Homo sapiens: one gene and its partners. The protein of the gene in region 1 interacts with the protein of each later gene in a pairwise test. Each region holds a gene or a part of one and is shown in the gene's direction. Other genes may lie near its edges.

What was found. The genes of interacting proteins can lie anywhere in the genome.
Region 2: the proteins of CDR2 (region 1) and ZGPAT interact in binary tests that used the Homo sapiens proteins (3 or more experiments, as listed by UniProt).
Region 3: the proteins of CDR2 (region 1) and TCHP interact in binary tests that used the Homo sapiens proteins (3 or more experiments, as listed by UniProt).

Annotation. Positions count from the first base shown.
Region 1 is NC_000016.10:22,364,274-22,371,846, reverse strand, and holds part of CDR2 (cerebellar degeneration-related protein 2), read left to right. Parts: intron 1-6,832; coding exon 6,833-6,945; intron 6,946-7,573.
Region 2 is NC_000020.11:63,703,991-63,711,355, forward strand, and holds the start of ZGPAT (zinc finger CCCH-type with G patch domain-containing protein), read left to right. Parts: upstream 1-4,048; 5' UTR 4,049-4,128; exon of another isoform or gene 4,129-4,198; intron 4,199-4,562; 5' UTR 4,563-4,590; coding exon 4,591-5,174; intron 5,175-7,365. Other genes in the region: ARFRP1 (ADP-ribosylation factor-related protein 1), read right to left, coding at 2,367-2,449, 2,661-2,748, 3,009-3,101. UniProt on the Homo sapiens protein: Transcription repressor that specifically binds the 5'-GGAG[GA]A[GA]A-3' consensus sequence. Represses transcription by recruiting the chromatin multiprotein complex NuRD to target promoters.
Region 3 is NC_000012.12:109,910,274-109,917,590, forward strand, and holds part of TCHP (trichoplein keratin filament-binding protein), read left to right. Parts: intron 1-789; coding exon 790-962; intron 963-2,717; coding exon 2,718-2,799; intron 2,800-4,168; coding exon 4,169-4,354; intron 4,355-5,129; coding exon 5,130-5,273; intron 5,274-6,317; coding exon 6,318-6,350; 3' UTR 6,351-7,317. UniProt on the Homo sapiens protein: Tumor suppressor which has the ability to inhibit cell growth and be pro-apoptotic during cell stress. Inhibits cell growth in bladder and prostate cancer cells by a down-regulation of HSPB1 by inhibiting its phosphorylation.

The DNA of each region.
Region 1 (7,573 bases):
TCTGAACCTCTTTACTGCCAGTTGCATTTCTGTGTTTTTCAAAGGGCTGTTACGTTATCACAGTGGACTTTGACTTAACCCTCTGTGTCATAACCAACTATATGGAGTACGAGTAGAAGATGTGAAATTCCAACAATTGTAACTTGTGAATATGGCCTGTCAAAGAATAAAGGCTACAGTGTGAATAAAAGGGTATCCTTTCCCCAGTTTTGCTAAGTTATATGTTAACTCCTAAACTTTTAACAGATTTTAAAACTTGTTCATTTCTCAAAAATGTATTATCTGCTCTTTGCCAGGTATTCGCCTGGGCCCTGGGGCCACAGCACCTCCCCACATGAGTGGATAGGTAGGATTCCTACTCCCATAGAGTGAATGTTCCAGGAATCTGTTCACTAGAGAAGCCTGGAGGTGCCGCCTCATGGGATGTGCCCACTACAGCGCCTCGTACATTGTAGGCCCTCAGTAGACACTTGCTGCTGAATTAAGTTTGGGAGCAGGTCTGTCCTGTTAAACAGATTATTCAGCAAGTCTAGTGGGATTTTATGTGCAGGCATCTGTCCGTTTTTTAACATCCTCATTATTATTACTGAGCAAGGCTTATTTGGAGAGAACTGCTTAAAACTTTTTTTTTTTTTTTGAGGTGGAGTCTCGCTCTGTCCCCAGGCTGGAGTGCAGTGGCACGCTCTTGGCTCACTGCAATCTCCGCCTCCCGCGTTCAAGCCATTTTCCTGCCTCAGCCTCCCAAGTAGCTGGGATTACAGACACGTGCCACCACACCCAGCTAATTTTTGTATTTTTAGTAGAGACGGGGTTTCCCCATGTTAGCCAGGATGGTCTCAATCTCCTGACCTCGTGATTTACCCGCCTCGGCCTCCCAAAGTGCTGGGATTACAGGCGTGAACCACCGCACCTGGCTGGAAAACAACTTTTAATGATCCTGTTCTCAGTATCTTACAACTATAGAATGTTTTCCTTTAGCAGTAGTAAGCCATGCTCTGAATAGATTGAATCTTTGTATCAAAGTTTCCTAGGGTATCCGTTTTTAAATTGAAATTGCTGGAAATTTCTAACCTCAGTAAACTCTGGTCTACTATTCATACCTTGTTAGAAACATGTAAAGCTTTTGTGTAGGCAGGAGGAGAAAACCCTTTGCTGTTACAAAACTCTTTGATGAAGAGACTGTCTTTTGTCAGAGAGCTGAGTTGGCTCAGTAGGAATACTGACAATAATCTCTGTGGGTAAGATCTTTTCTGGGACAGCAGGAGCCTTCAGTGCAGGTAATGATGGTGCTTGCTTTGAAACATGCCCCTGAGAACAAGGTGGAAAGACTTCAGAGACTGGATTTTCTTTTAAACCAGCTGCTATTGTCATTTGGTGAGCTGTGCAAACTTAGAATAAGGATTCAGGTTTCTGTTATGTGGATCAGTAAATGAACTCTTAGTTTAAAGGAATCCTAAAATTGCAGGATGAGTACATCCTCCTTGTGTACAACTATTTTGCTGAATCACTGTTTGGAGGGTTATTAAAACTGACAACATCATTTTTCTTGATATTTATATTCAGGTTTTCTGCTTTCCCAATTATAGTAACATTGGCAACAGGAGTTAAACAGAAGCATCACTAAATGACGCATTTGACTTTGTAATAGGAAAAACTTTCAGCCTTACTGTTAGTGAATTACTCCTACAGACTACAGCTGCCAGTACTAATTTTTTGCCTAAAGCATAGAGCTGAGTATCTGTTTAAAGCTAACAGTTTACACCATTAAAAATATATTATTACCTGCAAAGACTCATTAGTGAAAGAATATTCAACATATGAAGGTATTGATATGTTGAAATTCTCAAGCCTGCAATAAATCTACAGTATTTTTAGTAGTTGCCTAAACCAGGCCAGTTCAATAGGATTTAGAGAAGACCCTCTTAATGAAAATTCATTTTGTAATCCTGTAGAGATGAACAGGTGTATAAGGCTTCGAAACTATATTATTTCCTTTTCTTTTGTGCCTTAATTAAAACTATAAGGGACATTCAATATTCTATTCCCTCCACTAATTATTTAGAAAACTTTCTTGGGCTTACTGCCAGCTTTTGGCCTCTTTTGGTTATGGAAGCCAGCTGCTACTCAACAGGAAATGAACTTTTTTTAAAGACAAAGTCCGGTGTCTTTAAGCTAACAGATGAAGTAATATCCTGTTATACAGTGTGACTTCACAGGAGCTTTCTTGTAGTTGGGACTTGTTAAAATTCTATCCTTAACAGCCTATAAATATTTAGGAGATCGAGACTTCAGGTTTCTGAGCCAGGCTGGTGCTTTGTTTTACTGGAAATAAGGTTTGAGATAAGGACAAGTCTCAAATTCTTTTTTGTTTGCTATCTACTAAAGAGTGCTGTCCTTGGTATCTCTTTCTGCAGGAGCAGGGAAGAGGTTCCTGGCTACTCTTAAGTAGCACAGGTAGTTCCATAACTGAATGAAAGTGGTGATAGTCTCAAGACAGTCTGGATTCTGGGAGAGGTTTCAGCCCAGTTGGGTTTTGTTTTTTTTCTTTTTTTTTTTTTTCCTGCTAAGAGACAAGGTCTTGCTATGTTGCCCATGCTGGTCTCGAACTCTTGGCCTCAAACAGTCCTCCTGCCTTGGCGTCCCAAAGTGCTGAGATTACAGGTGTGAGCCACCACACCCGGTCCTTGGCTCAGGCTTTGATTGCTGGTTAAGAGCATCTTTGGTGAATCTGAGCCTTCCCAGTGAGGAATTACCACTTCACACATTTAAGAAGGAAAGACTTAAGTAATACCTAGGTAATGTTTTTATACTTTGTCTTTAATACAGTGTGGTAGCTTCCATATGGGTCTATGTATACACATTACACACTCTGTGAGTACAAAATCATTTTTTCTGGAACATGTTGAGCCATACATAGTTCCTTTTTCATTTGGTGAAAACAGGGTATTAACTTGCCTGGGGTTGTATGTGCTTTCACTAGCAGAGCAGGCAATAAAAACCCAAATAGTTGAACTCTAATTTCTCATTGCAATCTGTGAAAACAAGTAGAAGAAATTAAGTACCTCAACAAGGGGAACATTTGTATTCTCTACCTTAAAGAAGCCTGCGGACCTCTCTTTCAATTGCCTTAAAACTCTGCAGATGAAGATAACAAAGAATCGTGATGAGAGTGAGAGTGAGAACCTGTTGACCTAAGAGTTTCTGTTTGATCTGTGACTCACCTTGGAGCTTGATTAGGTCAATTAACAGTTTTGTGCTTCAGGCTGTCTCATCTGAGAAACTGGACTAAATACCTTTAAAGATATAAAGACTAATGTCTCTAGAAAACAAAAAGTAGGCTGGGGGCAGTGGCTCATGCCTATAATCCCCAGCACTTGGGGAGGCCGCGGTGGGCGGATCACTTGAGGTCAGGATTTCGAGACCAGCCTGGCCAGCATAGTGAAACCCCATCTCTACTAACAATACAAAAATTAGCCAGGTGTGGTGGTGGGTGCCTGTAATCCCAGCTACTCAGGAGGCTGAGGCAGGAGAATCACTTGAATCCAGGAGGCAGAGGTTGCAGTGAGCCGAGATCGCACCACTGCCCTCCAGCCTGGGTGACAAGAGTGAGAGACTCCATCTCAAAAAAAATAAATAAATAATGACAAGAAAAAGACTAATGTCTCTTAAATGCTTTGAGCTATTTGTAAAAGTTCTGTGTTTTGTAAATACAAGTTATTTCATAGATTTAATGGAAGTCTTTATTTTTTATTTTTTTATTTTTGAGACAGGGCCTCACTGTATTTTTGGTAGAGATGTAATTTCACCATGTTGCCCTGGCTGGTCTCGAACTTCTGAGCTCAAGCAGTCCATCTGGTTCACCCTCCCAAAATGCTGGGATTATAGGCATGACCCACTGCACCTGGCCTCTAAAGTCTTAATGAATGTAATGACTAATAGACATTGTTAGTTTTGAAATCACAAGAGAATGTATTTTAGCACCTATCTACCAACAGTATACTGTTTTATTTTAAATGGGTGTAAAATGTTTTTAAATGATCTGGAGTTGGGTGTGGTAGGTTTTGCTGCTTTTTCCAGAGTGAAAACTAACCAAGTAGAATACTAATTATGCACTTGAGTGGACATTACAACAACTAATGCTGTTGTTACCATTTACTCAATGCTAAGTTTTACTATGAGTAGTGGTGGATAGCCATTAAGCCTTATTTGTCAACCTCTAAAAATTAAGTTTAAAAATCATTATGTAGTGAGTTTCCTTGTTTTTATGATAAATTTTTTTCATAATACTTTTATGACAATAACTGAGGCTACTTTCCATCATACCTAGAATAAAATTTAAACTTTACCTACCATGGGCTATAAAATCCTATATGATCTGATCCCTCATGCTTCTATCATACTGGCTGCTTGTCAGGTTGTAGAATATGCCAAATTCATGGCAAGTTCTTCATCCTTCAAGCTTCAGCTAAAAGGTCTTGTCAGACCTTCCTTATGACCTCCCTTTCTAAATTGGGCCCTAGGCTGGGCACAGTGGCTCATGCCTGTAATCCCAACATTTTGGGAGGCTGATGTGGGAGGATGTGTTGAGGCCAGAAGTTTGAGATCATCCTGGGCAGCATTGTAAGACCCTGTCTCTACAATAAATCAGTAAGTAAGTAAGCTGGGTTTGGTAGTGCATGCCTGTAGTCCCAGCTGTTTGGCAGGCTGAGGCAGGAAGATCACTTGAGCCCAGGAATCCAAGGCTACAGTCAGCCATGAGTGCACCACTGCACTCCAGCATGGCAACAGAGCGAGACCGTGCCTAATAAAGAGACAGAAAAAGAAAGCCCTTTGTTCATTATCACCAAATCCAGGTTTTTCTCCCCCGCTTTATCTTTTAGACTTTATATTGAATTGGTCAACAAATCCTTTAGCTTTACTTTCAAAACATGTCAGAATTCTGCCCCTCCTCTCCCATCTTCATCTCTGCCACCCTGGTCCAAGCCACCATCATCTCTCACCCAGACGATTGCAGTATCTTTCTGTCACTCTGCTCCCACCTTTGTCCCATTCACCCTGTATAACAGCAGCCGGAGTGATCCTGTTAAACCTCCATTGGATTCCTTCATTTGGAGTAAAGGCCAAACTCTTGACCTCTTTAGTTAGGCCCTCCGCAAACTGGCCATCTTGGAGCCCCTCTGATTTGAGTCTTCCCCCTCCCCTCCCTGCCCAATACATTCTGCTCCACCCTCCTCAGCCTCCTTAATGACTCAGTCATGCTTCCTCCCAGGTGCTTTGCACTTGCCTTGCCTCTGCCTGGAGTGCTGTTTCCCTGATGGATACACATGGGTCACTTATTCTGTTCCTTCACACATTGATTCTAATGTGGCCCTGGTCACATGTTCTTAAATTTCAGCCTCCCACATCCACACTCCTCCTGTACTTCTTCCTTGCTTTATTTTTTTCTCTTTAGCATTTATCGCTATCAAGTTTTATTGTGCTGTTTCTCCCAGTAGAATATAAGCTCCATGAGGGCAGGGATATTTTTTTAATGTGAGTTCCTTATGGCTCCTGGGCACCATCCCAGTGCCTAGAATAGTGTCTGATATTATTGAGTATATGCATGCATGCATGAATACTGTTTATCACAGTATGTGAGTTTAGTTACTCATTTGTCTGGCTTCCTCCACTAATCTGGGAATGTCAGCAAAGCAGGACTTCATTTTATTCACTGTTCTATAGCTAATGCTTAGCATAGTGCCTGGCAACAAAAACATTCATTTGTGAATCAATGACTATTAATAGTACTTTGCGTGCGTATTGCAACTTAGTTTGTAAAGTACTCCTTTATGTATTATTTCATTTGATTTTCACAATCTTATATTGATAAGACAGTCATCTCTCTAAACAAGAATACTAACTATAGGGGCCTTAAAGTCACCATATTGAAAGTGTTCTGGTAAATGATAGAACTGGGCCTGAGACTTACCTGCCCAGAGTGCAGTGCATTTCCCACTGTATCAAAGGACTGCTCCATAAGATTTACTATGCAAAGAAGTATTTCAATGACGTATGTTACAACTAGTGTCCTTTCTTATATTGTTAACTAAATTTTCATTTCTGGGAGTTGAGTATAATATAAACAAATCCTGTTTTATGGGCATTATACCTAAGAATAGAGAGAGTTGAAAAATGAGGTTTAAAATAAAATATGGTTCTGTGCTAAATGGAAGTATGAGCTACTGACATGTAATTACCTCAAAAACCACATTTCTGTTTTGCTTTTCTAGTTGCTCATCTTACAGAAGGACACGAAGAGAAGTAGAGTGACCTGGGGCAGTGTTCTTAATGCTGATGTATTTTTCCTTTTCTTGACTTAATAAATTTTAGTCCCCTTAGGAGTCCAGGATATATGACAATAAACTTTAACAGTTGTATTCACAGCAGGCAAATTCATGGGAACTTTAAAGATTTTTGAAAGCTCCACCTATACCTTGGCTCAAGGGTCCATTCAAAAAAGTAGACTGTCAGGATATGAATACATTCATTGTACTAGCAAATAGGATTTTAGAAGTAACACTGCGGAATGATCATTCCTGAACAAATAACTGCATCTCCATAAAGTAGATGACCATTTTTCACTTCTTACAAGTATGGGTACATAAGAGAATACATTACCTGCTGGAGGCGTCAGTTTAACTGAATTTTAAGTAGAACTCGGGTTTCCTTCTGTGCCACTCCACCTTCCATTGGGATGTGACTTAAACTACATGTTCTTTTTTGAAGGACTGGGTTATATAAATTGTTGATGTGAGATCATTTGTATTATTCTAAGATTCATTTGTTGTGCTAGATCTTCAACTTGCTGCTGAGCTTGGGAAGACATTACTGGATCGGAACACAGAGTTGGAGGACTCTGTTCAGCAGATGTATACAACCAATCAGGAGCAGTTACAGGAAATTGAGGTAATTCACTTGGCAGGAGAGTTACACTTTTGACACTTCGATGTGTTGCTGTTATGCCAATCACATACTGGTAAAAAAGCACTTGCAATTAGATGCAGCATTTTATTTTTTAACACAAACTTTTTTGAGAATGAGAACCGCCTCCCGAGTAGCTGGGATTACAGGCGCCTGCCACCACGCCTGGCTAATTTTTGTATTTTTGGTAGAGATGGGGTTTCACTGTGTTAGCCAGGCTGGTCTCGAACTCCTGTCCTCAGATGATCCACCTGCCTTGGCCTCCCAAAGTGCTGGGATTACAGGCATGGGCCACCACACCCGGCCTAAAACATGCAATATTTAAGATATACAGAATGGGGTAAGAGAACAATACAGTGAATACCCATATATCCACCACCTAGCTTAAAAAAGAAGACTGCCCACACTCTTGAACTTCCCACCGGAGAGGGAACTTATACCTCCTCCTTGGTGACATATCCCTCCCACCTACTACCAAACCATATCCTAAATTTGAAAAAAAAAAATCATAGTTCCTGATTTCACAGTGTGTTCAGATGTTTTGCTCCATTCAAATAATCATAAAATACATGTTGCTTTCTCTCTGCTGTGATCTTGATTTGTTTACATTTTT
Region 2 (7,365 bases), on another chromosome or scaffold:
CTGTGGGTCTGAGTTTTTCTCCCCAGCAGCAATGGGAGCTCCCCAACTGCAAAGTGCCAGCCAGCCTGAGAGACTAGTGTTACAGCAAAGAACCCAGGAGCTGAGGTCCTGGCACATGCCACACATGTGGACACCAACCCAGGGTCCAGCCCCAGGACGAGGCCAATTCGCAATGACGCCCCTTTCTGTGGTGCTGGCTCTGCACAAGGATGCAGGATACAGGAAACCAGGGTGGGAGCAGGGGCCTCCCTTCCGGTCCCTCCCAGTGACCTAGGGGGGTCCCTGCAGCTGATCCTCCCAGCTCTGAGCTCAGCAGGGTCAGGGGTCCCGGCCACTAGAGCAGCACATACTCAGCAGACACGCTGAATGACGAGCCACAGCTGCCTCATGGGCATGACTTGCACCTCATGTCTAGGAGACCCTGGTGGGCAGGAGATGGGGCTGCCATCCCACAGCTGTCCCACAGCTGGGGACCCAGGGAGCCACTGGCCCCACCACGGTGGTGTCTGGAGAAGGGCTCAGACTGCCAGGAAGTCGCACCCCAGCAGAAGTGGTAGTGAATTGGGAGGGCACTCAAGGAAGGGCTGTGCAGCCCCAAGACCAGCAGCAAGGATGGGCTACAGTGGCCCCCTTAAGTCTCCCTCTTCCAGTTTCGCCTTAAGAGAGGCCCTCAGGACCTTGGAGGAACCCCTCTCCAACGTGGAAGTGTGGGTCCACATAGGGCTGCAGCTGTGGCCAGTGCAGGCATCTCTGGCCCCACTGTATTCTTGCTTCATGTTGGAGAACACTGCACCAGCAGATGGTCTCATTTTGGTTTCTGTGGGACCCACTTTGGCTGCAAAGAGCCACACTGCCAGGTCACACCTGCCCAGGGCAGCCCACACTGGGGACCCACCAGGCCATGGTGTGAAGTCCCGGCCAGCCTGGCCCCACATGGCACAGCATAGCCAGTTCTCCTCCAGGGCTCCCTGCTGGGCCAACCACAGCTCTGTGGATCCTGCTGCCTGAGTCGACCTCTCCTCTCCCGTCCTCCCTGCCTTCCTGGTGCCGACCCCCAGTGTGCATCCTGTACCTCGACCTGTCTCAGCATCTGTGCCTGAGACACCGGCCTGTGACAAGATCATCATCATCTGTGTCACTCCCCAAGCATGCTGCGCACTGGACACACAGGCCCTGACTCAACTTGTCCTGTCTGACTTCAGTGGTCCTACAGGATCTATCAGAGATCACTTGGCCATGGGAGAAATGTCTTCTTGGCTAGAAGTCACAGCAGGAGGGGACACTTTGGGGGCGCCTAGGAAAGGGGAACTAGGATCAAAAAAGAGATCAGGACCTGGGCACTCAGCTCTAGAGATGGCATCAGGGCAGCCAAGGCACTGGGGACACCCCACACCCACTGTGCCAGCCTAGGGCAGGGAGCCCGAGGAAGCCACAGGCTCTGCCCTGCTCAGTGCTGGACTCAGTGCCTGGCCCAGGCTGAGAAGGAGATAAACTGCAGCCTTGGGGGTGTGGGGAAGGGGCACCACACTGGGATCTCAGAAATGCCCAAAACCTGTGTCAAAATAGGAGACTGCCGCTGTGAGACCCTGAGGAGTCTTCTGGTGATCATGGAAGAACAAATGTTAAGCTAGAACTGAAGGAACCTCATCAGGGGAGAGGCAGCCATCCTGCCGTCCCCACATCTGGTCTTTGCCATTTCTGTGTCCTGTGGTGGTCAGCAGCAAGGTCTCTGAGCCGAAAGGAGGCACTCACTTTGGAGGAGTGCAGGGTCCCCAGGTCCCCACACTTTGTCTTGTCCTGACTGAGAAAGAAACAGACTGCCCTGACCTCTCTGACTTGGCCAGCGAGGTTGCCCTTAGGCTCAAACCCAAGCCAGGGTTTGAACATTCCCAGACACTTGTAAGATGTTTAGGTTGTTAACATAATGTTCAGGTTTCAAAACATTGAAAGAAACTAGCCCCAGCCCTGAACCCAGATCCCCCCCGGCTTCAGGCATGACCAGTGAACACGCCCTTCTCTCACTGGTCACCTGAGGATGCCGCACTCTGTCAACAGGTTCCCCTAATACATGCTCTGATCTGATCGCCTTGGCATTTAGTGATTCTTTCCCTGGAATTCTCCACTGGCCCCATCGCAGGGAACTCCCAAGTGGGAAACTCCCCTACCACCACTTTTGGGGCAACTTCAGCTAAGGGTTCAGCTGGGACAAAACAGGGAGCCACTCGGGAACCTGGGACAGGACCAGAGAGAAAACCCGAGGGACAGAGTGGGTAAGGAAAACTGCTGAGGAAGGGCCCAAAGGGCACTCTGGAAAGAAGTGGCACTGGAGGGCTGGGGTGGGGGTGGTCCTGGCCAGGGAGTCTTACCTTGTCCCACAAAGACTGCAGCTCTTCCTGCCCTCCTAAGTCCCAGAACATGAGCCGAGCCTTTCCCACATCCACAGTGCCGACTGGGGAGAGGAGGAAACAGGCAAGGCTCATGACCTTGGTCCTCGACACACCCAGTCCCAGCTCTCCCAGGGGATGGGGCAAACCATGCTGGTGCCACTCAAATGAGACTTGAGAGGGGCCCGACAGGGCTGTGGCCACGGGCCAGCTGGACTGTGAATATCACGGCATCCTCAAGGCCCCAAACCCACAGCCTGCTATTGAGACCCTTACTGTTTAGGCCCACGGTGGTGGTGATTTTGGATAGACTCATCCCCTTGTAGTTCTTGTTAAATCGGGTTTTCGACTGCTCCAGGAAGGTCTGAGGAGAGAGGCAGAGGCGAAACACATCAAGGAGGGGCTATACTGGCTTCCAAATATCCTTACTCAGGTCTGTTCTTTAAAAGACAGAAACAGAAACAGAGCAACACTCTGCTCTTCAGGAGGCTGGTGGTGACTATCCTGCCGTCTCAGGTGAAATTTGGCTTCCGTCTGGGTAGTGAACGTGCAGCTGACAGCACAAAACCGAAGGGGGCGCCGCCAGGCCGTGGGAAAGGTGCGCGCAAGGGCGTGGGCACTCACCGTCTTCCCAGCATTGTCCAGGCCCAGGATCAGGATGCAGTACTCGTCCTTCTGAAACATGTACTTGTACAAGCCCGACAGCAGCGTGTACATCCTGCCCTGGGCACCCCAACATAGGTCAGTGTGCAGCCAGAAAGCACCTCCCCTCCCCCGGGCTTCTCCACGGTGGTCAGTGGCGCCCCACGTCCAGCCGACCGCTCAGGACGAGAGCCTGGGGGCCATTCCCGACTCCTCGTCCCTCTCCCACCCCGTCCCTCTGTAACTTCTCCCAGGTCAGCCGCCACTGTGTCCTGCTCACAGCAATGACTGCGACCTCTCCGCATACACATCGGTTCCGGCCCCTCCCCTGCTCGCGGGACTACCCAGCCGGGTGTTCACAGTGAGCTCAGCCGCGCTCCCGCCCTCCCCCGAGGCTTCGCTCCCACGCTTCACGCGCGCGGAACGGGGAACACACTCGCTGCAGCCCCGCCTGGGCCACGGCACCCTCGAGCGCCAGCCCCGCGCCCCACCCGGGAGCAGCGAGCCACCGGCGCGCTCCCCAGGAGCCCCTGCAGGCGCCGGGTAGGGACGCCCCATCACCCCATTTCTTAAAACGGGGACGGCCCTGGGGGGAGCGGACTACAGGGCGGGTGAGCAGCGGCGCGGCTGCTCCTGGAGTGCACCTGGAGGCGGCGCGCGGCTGGCAGGGAACGACTGCGAAGGAAGAACCTGGGTCGCGGCCCCCGGCTACGTCCGCCCCAAGCCGCCGCCGCCAGGTCTGAGGCTCCCCGACAAGCAGCCAAAGCTGGCTCCTGTCACACCCGCGTCCCACCTCGAGTCCTGGGCCGCCCCTCGGGCCTCGCGCCTCACCGCACAGCCTGCGGCCTACCTGCGTCCGCCGCGCCCTCGGAGCCGCTGCTGCTGACCCCCGCTGACCTCCGCTGACCCCGCGCTAACCCCGCGCGGCGCCTGACGGGACGCGGGCCGGCCTCAGGGAATGAGCTGAACCGCGTCCCAGCGGCCTCCGCGCTCCGCTTCCCGGCTGCCCCCGCGCGCCAAGCACTTCCGGAAGCGGCGGCGCTCGGGAGGAAGTGCCGATCGGCTGCTGGGGCGAAAAGGGGGCGCCGGGCCGCTCTAGCCGGTGAGGCCGGCGGGCTCTCTGTGGCTGCGGCTGGGAAACCGCGCGGAGGAGGTGCCCGGCCGGGGACCAGGTGGCCGCGGTTTGCGGGGACGCGGCCCTGGCCAGACAGAAGAGACGCCGGGCGGGGGGGCGCGGCCGGCCTGGAAGGCGGCGGGCGCGGCGGGTGGGCTCGGCGGAGGGTGAGGCGGCGGGGCGCCCCGCGGGGAAGGGGCTCCGGAGTGACGCGGGACCCGGCTAGCGGCGAGCCCACGGCGGCTCGGAAGGGAAGCGCGGAGCCTGAGCGGGGGTACCCGGGCTGCGACCTCTGCGCTGGGAGCTGTGCCTCTGAGCCGGTGTCTCCCCGAGGGAAAGGGGACGTGCCCGTGCCCGTGCCCGCCCTCAGGCTGTGGGGTCGGTCCCGAGACGCGGGGCTCAGCTGGCTTCTCTTCTTGCAGCCCTGGTCCAGCGCCTCCCTCTCTCAGCATGGACGAGGAGAGCCTGGAGTCGGCCTTGCAGACCTACCGTGCGCAGCTGCAGCAGGTGGAGCTGGCCTTGGGCGCCGGCCTGGATTCGTCTGAGCAGGCTGACCTGCGCCAGCTGCAGGGGGACCTGAAGGAGCTCATCGAGCTCACCGAGGCCAGCCTGGTGTCTGTCAGGAAGAGCAGCTTGTTGGCCGCGCTGGACGAAGAGCGCCCGGGCCGCCAGGAAGATGCTGAGTACCAGGCTTTCCGGGAGGCCATCACTGAGGCGGTGGAGGCACCAGCAGCGGCCCGTGGGTCCGGATCAGAGACCGTTCCTAAAGCAGAGGCGGGGCCAGAATCTGCGGCAGGTGGGCAGGAGGAGGAAGAGGGAGAGGACGAGGAAGAGCTGAGTGGGACAAAGGTGAGCGCGCCCTACTACAGCTCCTGGGGCACTCTGGAGTATCACAACGCCATGGTGGTGGGAACGGAAGAGGCGGAGGATGGCTCGGCGGGTGTCCGTGTGCTTTACCTGTACCCCACTCACAAGTCTCTGAAGCCGTGCCCGTTCTTCCTGGAGGGAAAGTGCCGCTTTAAGGAGAACTGCAGGTAAAGCCCTTTGTTGTCAGATGCCAACCTTAGGGGCGTAAGGGGCACGCACACAGGGTCGGGTCAGGATCGGCCCTCCCTTTGCTTTGCAGTTTTGTCTCAGCTTCCTGGGGCAGGCGTGCTTTGACAGCTGTGTCTGTGTTCAGGCGTCTACGTCTTCCTTCTGGGGTGAATCAAGAAGCATGGAAGGAGGCCAGGCGCGGTGGCTCACGCCTGTAATCCCAGCACTTTAGGAAGCCGAGGCGGGCAGATCACCTGAGGTCAGGAGTTCAAGACCACGCTGGTCAACATGGTGAAACCCCATCTCCTTAAAAACACAAAAATGAACCGGTCGTGGTGGCGCGCACCTGTGGTCCTGGCTACTCAGGAGGCTGAGGCAGGAGAATTGGTTGAACCCAGGAGGCCGAGTTTGCAGTGAGTGGAGATGCAGCCACTGTACTGCAGCCCGAGCAGCAGTGCAAGGCTTATGTGGAAGAGAGTAGGTCTCCAGCCTATCGTCAGTTTTTTTTTGGTGGTTGTTTTAATTTTTTTTGAGACAGGGTCTTACTTTGTCAACCAGGCTGGAGTGCAGTGGCATAGTCCTGGCTCACTGCAGCCTGGACCTCCTGGGCTCAACCGATCCTCCTGCCTCAGCCCCCCTAGGAGCTGGGCTACAGACTCACGCTACTACACCCAGCTAATTTTTATATTACTATAATTTTTTATCTTTTTTTTGAGATGGAGTCTTGTTCTGTTGCCCAGGCTGGAGTGCAGTGGCGTGATCTCGGCTCACTGCAAGCTCCGCCTCCCGGGTTCACGCCATTCTCCTGCCTCAGCCTCCCGAGTAGCTGGGACTACAGGCGCCCGCCACCATGTCTGGCTAATTTTCTGTATTTTTAGTAGAGACGGGGTTTCACCATGTTAGCCAGGATGGTCTCAATCTCCTGACCTCGTGATCCGCCCACCTTGGCCTCCCAAAGTGCTGGGATGACAAGCGTGAGCCACCGCGCCTGGCCTTTTTTTTTTGGAGACAGAGTTTCACTCTCCTCACCCAGGCTGGAGTGTAGTGGCGCAATCTCAGCTTACCGCAACCTCTGTCTCCCGGGTTGAAGTAATTCTCTACCTCAGCGTCCAGAGTAGCTGGCATTACAGGCGCCCGCCACCACACTGGGCTAATTTTTTGTATTTTTAGTAGAGTCGGAGATTCACCATCTTGGCCAGGCTGGTCTTGAACTCCTGACCTCGTGATCCACCCACCTTGGCCTCCCAAAGTGCTGGGATCACAGGCGTGAGCCACTGCGCCTGGCCCTGTTGTTAGTTTTATTCTCTAGAGTTCAACTTTTAAATTTTACTTTCATGGAGATTTTCAAACATACCCCAAATTAGAGAGTTTAGCATAATCACCGCCCACGGTCCATCATCCAATGTCGTCATTTATTAATATTTTCCCAGTCTCATTTTGTCTGTTCTCCCTGCCCTATTTTTTTCTTTCCTGGGCCATTTTAAAGCAAATTCCAGAAGTTACTGGTTTTTTCCAATTATGAATACTTCATAGTTGCATCTCTAATCTAACTGATTAGGAAATTACTTAAAAAGTAACTTTTTGGAAGTCCAAGTCCGATGTGAGGACAAAAAAGAGTAACTTCTGTGTCATAATAGGTAACACATTTAATGGTAATACCTCTTCCATATTCAAATATGAACAATTATTACTGTAATGTCTCTATTTCCCTAAGCGCATAGCTTTATTTTTCCTCCTTTTTACTTTTCTCTTAGAAGAAATATTTACCAAGCCTTCTAGTAGGTAATTTTCTTTTTTAGCCAATAGTTCAGGCTGACCGTGTAACCATCCCTAGTTCTAGTTCTAGTTCTTTGAATGTCTTCCTTTTTTTTTTTTTTTTGAAACAGCGTCTTGCTGCTCTGTCACCCAGGCTGGAGTGCAGTGGCACAATCTCGGCTCACTGCAATCTCCGCCTCCCTGGCCCAAGCCATCCTCCCACCTCAGCCTCCCTAATAGCTGATACTACAAGTGTGCACTGCCACGCCCAGCTAATTTTTGTATTTTTTGTAGAGACGGGATTTCACCATATTACCCAGGTCTCGAATTCCTGATCCCTTTGATGAGAGATCTGACACATCCCTGTGGTGCTCCCTCTGGGCCAGGCACTGCTCCAAGGGTTTCATATACTTTCATTCATCTGTGCAACAGCCC
Region 3 (7,317 bases), on another chromosome or scaffold:
ACTGCGGTCAGGGCAGGACATGGGGCACAGTGGCATGGTTGGTCCTGGTGTGCAGCTGTTTTTTATGGGGTCTTGCTCTGTTGTCCAGGCTGGATTGCAATGGCGCAATCACGGCTCACTGCAGCCTCAACCTGCCAGGCTCAAGCCATCCTCCCACCTCAGCCTCTCGAGTAGCTGGGACCATAGGTGTACATCACAATGCTTTGTAGAGATGGGGTCTTGCTACATTGCCCAGGCTGGTCTTGAACTCCTAGGCCCAAGTGATCCTCCCACCTCAGCCTCCCAAAGTGCTGGGATTGCATGCATTAGCCCCAGTGCCCAGCCTCCTGCATTATTTTAATGCTTCCATTATGTTGATGTACATAGTAGCTAATTCCCCACCAAGGAGCATTTTGGTTGTTTCTGGTTTTTCCCTCTTACCTAAAAGCTGCAACGAGTGTTTTGCACTTTTGTGTCACTGTGGTCTTTGTTCTTATAAGTGGGATTTTTGCCAAGTTGTATTCCAAAAAGTTGTGCAACCAGGTGTATCCGAGGGCATGTGGTGGTGGCTGGGTCTCCCTTTAGCCAGAGAGAAGCTCCTAGGCCTGTGCAGTGTCTGAACCACCCCTCGTGATTATCCCCAGTCTGTTCCAGAAATAATCCAGGATCTTCCCATCTCTGTCTTGAGAACACTGTGTAGAATCACGAATGTCTATGTAGAAAGGAAAGGGAGGGCAGGCCCCTCTGTAGGCTCTCATTGCAGAAGGACTCTGTCCAGCCCAGCCACGTGCCGCCCTCTGCTTCCTCTAGGAGGCAGACAGGCGGATCCTGCAGGCCCTCCTCGAGAAGGAGGACGAGAGCCAGCGCCTCCACCTGGCCAGGCGGGAGCAGGTCATGGCCGATGTGGCCTGGATGAAGCAGGCCATTGAGGAGCAGCTGCAGCTGGAGCGGGCGCGGGAGGCAGAGCTGCAGATGCTGCTGAGGTGAGTGGCAGCTGCTGACTGGGCTGGATGCTCCTGGCCTCAACTCTGATACCTTGAAATGCCCCATGGGTCACCTGTTACTGAAATATCTATTGGCTGGGCGTGGAGGCTCACACCTGTAATCCTAGCACTTTGAGAGGCCGAGGCAGGTGGATCGCTTGAGCCTAGGAATTTGAGATCAGCCTGGGCAACATGGCAAAACTCCAGGCTCTACCAAAAATACACAAATTGGCCAGGCGTGGTTGTTCATACCTGTAGTTCCAACTACTCGGGAGGCTAAGTGGGAGGATCACTTGAGCCCAGGAGGTTGGGGCTCCGATTAGCCATGACTACACCACTGCACTCCAGCCTGGGTGACAGAACGAGACTCTGTCTCAAAAAAAAAAAAAAAAAAAAAAGAAGAAGAAGAGATAGCTGTGTATGTTGTCCATCATTCCTGAGGAGCACATCTTCATAATGGACCTGGCCTCTGGGGGTGTTTCCCTTGTATTATCTGAGGTGGAAATCATTAAGGTTTAGAGTAACGATGTGTTCATCTGAAATCTTAGAGGTTTAGAAGGAAATTATTTTTTTTTTTTTGAGATAGAGTCTTGCTCTGTCACCCAGGCTGGAGTGCAGTGGCATGATCTCGGCTGACTGCAATCTCTGCCTCCTGGGTTCAAGTAATTCTCTGCCTCAGCCTCCCGAGTAGCTGGGATTACAGGCGCCCGCCACCACACCCGGCTACTTTTTGTATTTTTAGTAGAGATGGGGTTTCACCATCTTGGCCAGGCTGGTCTTGAACTCCTGACCTTGTGATCCGCCAGCGTTGGCCTCCCAAAGTGCTGGGATTACAGGCGTGAGCCACTATGCCCAGCCAGAAGGAAGTTATTATAGAGATGTTGAATGCTGCTTACATCTATAAAACTGAGTTTGGGTCCTAAAGACTAAACTAGTAGATTGAAATCATCAAATAATAAGTAGCATACATTGAGCACTTACTGCATGCTGGACACTGTGCCGGGTGCTTTACAGGCCTCATCTTACTGAGTCCTGACATCCAGCCAAGTGGTGGCTTGTGAGACCCGGAGACTTGAAGAGGTCACTCCGTCCAGGGTGAGCTATCAGTGACACAGGCATGCGGTGGCAGGGTTCAGGCACAGGCAGCGCCCTCCTCTCCATGTTCTGATGGTTTCATTCATCTCTGTGTTAAACAGCCACGGTGTAAGTCATCCCAATTCCTTTTTATAAGGAGATGGGGTATTAAAAGGGTAACTTAAAATACTTCCAACAGGGCCAGGCACGGTGGCTCACGCTTGTAATCCCAGCACTTTGGGAGGCCAAAGCAGGTAGATCACTTGAGATCAGGAGTTCAAGACCAGCCTGACCAACATGGTGAAACCCTGTCTCTACTAAAAATACAGTAATTGGCCAGACATGGTGGCACATGCCTGTAATCCCAGCTACTCAGGAGACTGAGGTACTAGAATCGATTGAACCTGGGAGGTGGAGGTTGCAGTGAGCCGAGATCGCACCACTGCACTCTAGCCTGGGCAACAGAGCGAGACCCATCTCAAAAATAAAAAAAATGAAAAACTTCCAACAGTACTTTCCGTGGATGCTGTCCTTAATTGTAATCTTTTCAAAGTGCATGTGGATGTTTATCTGCAGTGTGGTCCTGCAGAAGCCATGTGCCCTGCAGCCCTGTCTGTTCCGTAGCTCGCTTCCTGCCAGGGCGGGGAGGAGCCTGCTGTCATCCCTTTTGTGTTTGCCCAGGGAGGAGGCCAAGGAGATGTGGGAAAAGAGAGAGGCAGAGTGGGCCCGAGAGCGCAGCGCACGGGACAGACTGATGAGCGAGGTAATCCCAGCTGCGGCGATGTGGACCGGCTGTTGGGTCTTGGGCAGGTGTCTGGAAGTCCATGGTCAGTCACCCTGCCAGATGCTCTGGGAACAGAGTCTTCTCTGGTCATTTTAAGTGGGCTTTAAAAATCATTGAAAAAGTAATATGAGCTTAGTAGAAAAGAATTCAGAAGTACAGGAAGTAGAAATGGAAAAAAGTCCCCCAGAGCCCATCCTGTATGCAGCCGTAGCTGCTGCTTCTGTCTGCTCTTCTGTTTCTATGCCTGACATTTTTTCTACATGTATTTCTTACTGTCTTGTGCTATTTGGCTTCAAGCGTTGTGACATGCTGTTACATCTTTATAAACGGCATGTCAGGGGCTGTATCACGGACTGTCCTCTGTCACCCGCTGCCTTTCCATTCCCTCTTATGGGTGTGCTGTGTTGTTCTAATTGGAAGCCATTCTGAGAAACGCTGCAGAGAGCCTCTTGGTGCCTGAGGCTCTTCCCACACGTTTCCCCCCTCGGGGTAGATGACAGCCGTGACCTGGAGGACATAACTGCTTTCCTGGTCAGTGTGTACACTGTGCGTGGAAGATATACCCCAACCGCAGAGAAATCTGGGAGGAGAAGAGAGAGTGTTACCCATGGGCTGAAAGCTGTTGTAAAGTGGTTTCAAATGAGAAACTCTACGTTGTGTCTGGTAGTATGCTGTATTTTGGAATCCACAGGAAATTGGGTCGTGATTGGTGATGTTTTGCTCTTGTAAATACCAAGAATTCTCCAGTGCCTTTTGATTTTCCTCATTTAAATTTCCCTCCTGATGGCGGCCACTTTCTGTTCCCCCCAGCCCTGCAGCCTAACTGTTGAGAGTGTCAGGTGGTTTTCTGCTCCTGACTGTGGCCTGGGCTGGAGTTCAGATGTCACACGGCTCTGGGGCCAGGTCTCAAACACAGCAGGTTCAAAAGGTTAGAGGACCACCCCAGCTCCACCTCTGGTCATCTGTGTGGCTTGTGGCTCTCTTGTTTTTGGAACCCGCTGATAGGAAGGAGACTCACCTTGTTGCTCCAAGGTTTCTCTGGCCCCGGGGAGACAGCTCCATCCCCATCTCCTTTGATTTCTTTGGCACTCAGCTGTCTCTCCATAGTACACAGTCTGGATACATTTTGTGTGTCTTGGGTTGCGAGGGAAACATTTCTTGTATACTGGCAAGCGTGGCCGACATCGTGAGAGCAAATCCTGTCATCTGGCTCTGCCTCTGCGTACCTGGGCCTGAGGCCCAAGGATGAGGCTGGGCCTTGCTGTGGCTGCAGCCTGTCCAAGGCTTGTAGAACCAGGATCTGTTAGGGTCAACCTCAAAGCTGCCCTTTTCTTTCTGCTGAGGTTAGGTTCTGACAGGGAGACAACAGCAAATACAAGAGAAGATTGAGCAGAACCGACGGGCACAAGAGGAATCCCTGAAACACAGGGAGCAACTTATTCGAAATCTTGAGGAGGTGAGAGAGTTGGCTCGTCGCGAGAAAGAGGAGAGTGAAAAGCTGAAATCGGCCAGGAAGCAGGAGCTGGAAGCCCAGGTAGGGCTGAGCCCAAGGGCGGGAGGCACCGGGCCTGCCAGGTTCTCTGCATCATCATGGGACAGGGTTCAGAGCCGCTGGACTGCCTGGCAGGGCTTGCGCACGTTTGAGAGCACGGTGCTCCCGTTTCCATCCCAGCTGCAGTCCTCATCCTCTTGACTGTGGCTTCTTTCCCTCCACATCCTCCATGTCGTGTGGGTGAGGCCGGTACTGCTGTCTGTTCTCTTTACTCTGTCTGCTTCTGCAAGCAGTTGGCTTACCGGGGGCCATAGATCTCTCTTCATTTCAGTCCCTGATACATAAGACAGAACAGTCCTCCAAACACCTGGCCACAGGCCGAGCTTTTCACGAGGTACACGCCACGCATATGTATAGCCTCTCCAGCTTTCCATGAGGTACACGCCACGCATACAGCCTCTCCAGCTTTCTACGAGGTACATGCCATGCATACAGCCTCTCCAGCTTTCTACCAGGTACACACAATGCATACAGCCTCTCCAGCTTTCCACGAGGTACACGCCACGCATACAGCCTCTCCAGCTTTCCACGAGGTAAGCGCCACGCATACAGCCTCTCCAGCTTTCTATGAGGTACACACCATGCATACAGCCTTTCAAGTCCCGCATGCTCCCTTCCGTTCCTTGGCACGTGCATTGCTGTTGCTCAGCTGGATTCTCCAGTCTGGGTAGGGCCGCAGGCTTACCTTCCTCATCAGAGGCAGGGCTCTGCCCTGTGGGCCTTGTCTTGGGGTGGTGACTTTGCTCTTGGCACTCAGGTTGCAGAGCGCCGGCTGCAGGCATGGGAAGCAGACCAGCAGGAGGAGGAGGAAGAGGAGGAGGCCCGGCGGGTCGAGCAGCTCTCAGATGCCCTGCTGCAGCAGGAGGCGGAGACTATGGCTGAGCAGGGCTACCGGCCTAAGGTAGGAAGTCTGCCAGGATATAGGCCAACACCGGCAAGACAGACTCTGCCCGGCCCCTGCTCCCCTGGGCCTGCTCATCGCCCCGCGCCGGGGTCTGCTCTCCGGCCGTCCGGGTTATTCCTTGTTTCTCTTCTCTTGTATTTCTCTCTTCCCTGACCAGCAGGGAGCCCTGACACAGGGGCTGTTCCAGTCCTTGGTTGGGCCTCAAACCTTGAAGTGATTTTGCTCTGGCCTTGCCTACTAAGCTGCATGCCTGTCCACCCTCTTTGGTCAATCTAAGAAGAGCTGTGGCCACAGCTGCTGAGAGGGGTCAGAGCAGTAGATCTAGGCCTCAACTGTTGAGACAGTGAAGCCCGATGAACAAGAGACCAGTCCTCCTCCTCACCTCCCCTCCCTCCCTCCTGTGGGTGTCCTCTTCCTCCCCTCCCTCCCGTGTGTGTATCTGTTTCTCTGCCTCTCAGTGTCTTTGTTCCCGGACCTGTCTGCACAGCACCATGGGGAGCACAGAGAAGCAAATGCTGCCTTCCCTGCCCTGAGGAAGCTGATGACTGAAGCACCTCCACTGCTGGCTTGTCCCCTCTGCCCTCCTTTACCTAGGGCCACCCTGGCCACCCGGTGCCTAGAGTGCATTCCCCAGGACACATGCTGCAGAATGAGGGCTGGCTCCCTTGTGGTCAGATGACACTGGGAAACTGAGTGAAACATAATTAGAGCAGGTGCTGCGTTTGCCATAGGCCACTCGCCCTCAAACACTGACTGTCACAGTCACAGGGAACAGCATTTCCTAAACCCACTTGGCCGTGGATCAGTGAGAGTGTCAGGGTCAGGGTTTCACAGATCATATGTGAAAGTGTTTCTTAGGGCTAGTACTCAAAACCAAAAAGATATCAAGTGCCTCATTTATGGCTTAGGGTCAGATTTTTTCAGCTGGAAATGAAACAGCCATTTATATTGTTCTTTTAGCTTGTAGTTAAAACAAGGTTAATTCCTCATGCTGCAGATACTGCTGATCTGATCACTCTTATGTTTTCTTTCTTTTCTCAGCCTTACGGACATCCAAAAATTGCTTGGAACTGACTTCATGGGTACCATAAGTACAGAGAACAAGGGATGCTGAGGCTTCTGATCCCAGCCGCCAGGCAGTTTTACAGGGCTCTGTTAACAGTAAGTGCCCGGGGCACTGTCAGATGGCTCAGCAGTGCCTGCTCAGGTTCATCATTGAAACATCCCAGTGTTTGGCCAGACATTAAGGTGTCGTGAGAGTCCCTTTCATGCCTTTCTTACCCAAGCAAGGGTCTTTGATGGGCACGTGTTTACAGCGCTGCTGCATAGTCTTGTAATATATTAACAGTCACATCAACTGAAGGTCAATACTAAGAGCCACAGGTTGTACCTGTGATGGGGCGTGTGGTTTCCTGTTGTCTCACCTTTAATTGTCAACCTCCAGTGTTGACTCTAGAAATATGAGGAAAGCTTTTCAGTTTTTAAAATTGCCATTTAAATTTAGTCTATTAAAAACAAACCTAGAGGTCTTGGTGCAGTTGATTTCAGAGTTTATTAATTTAGTGGTCCCAAAAGTATTACATCTTTTATATTCTGGAAGAAAAGAACTGTGAACAAATTAGAACCCCGGAACACTCTGACGTCCATGGACGCATTCCAGAAAAGTGGCAAGAGATGAGTCTTTCCTCCTCCAGGAAGCATTTTGGTAGAATTTCCATAGAGCATTGTCTGTGAGTGACTGATCCCAACATGTATGTTACTAAGCCCCAAAACGAACTTCAAACTGGGTGTGGTGGCACGTGCCTTTAGTCCCAGCTACCCGGGAGGCTGCGGCAAGAGGATTGCTTGAGCCCAGGAGTTCGAGTCCAACCTGGGCAAAAGAGTGAGACCCCATCTCTAAAACCAAAAAGGTACCTTAGAAGGTCACCTGGTTGGCTAACCTTTTAAAGGCAGGGGCGTGACACGTAGGACACATTGGGAATGTCTTGGCTACTACATGTAGCCTTCTGGGATATATGTGCCCAGAGGGAGAAGCACTGAG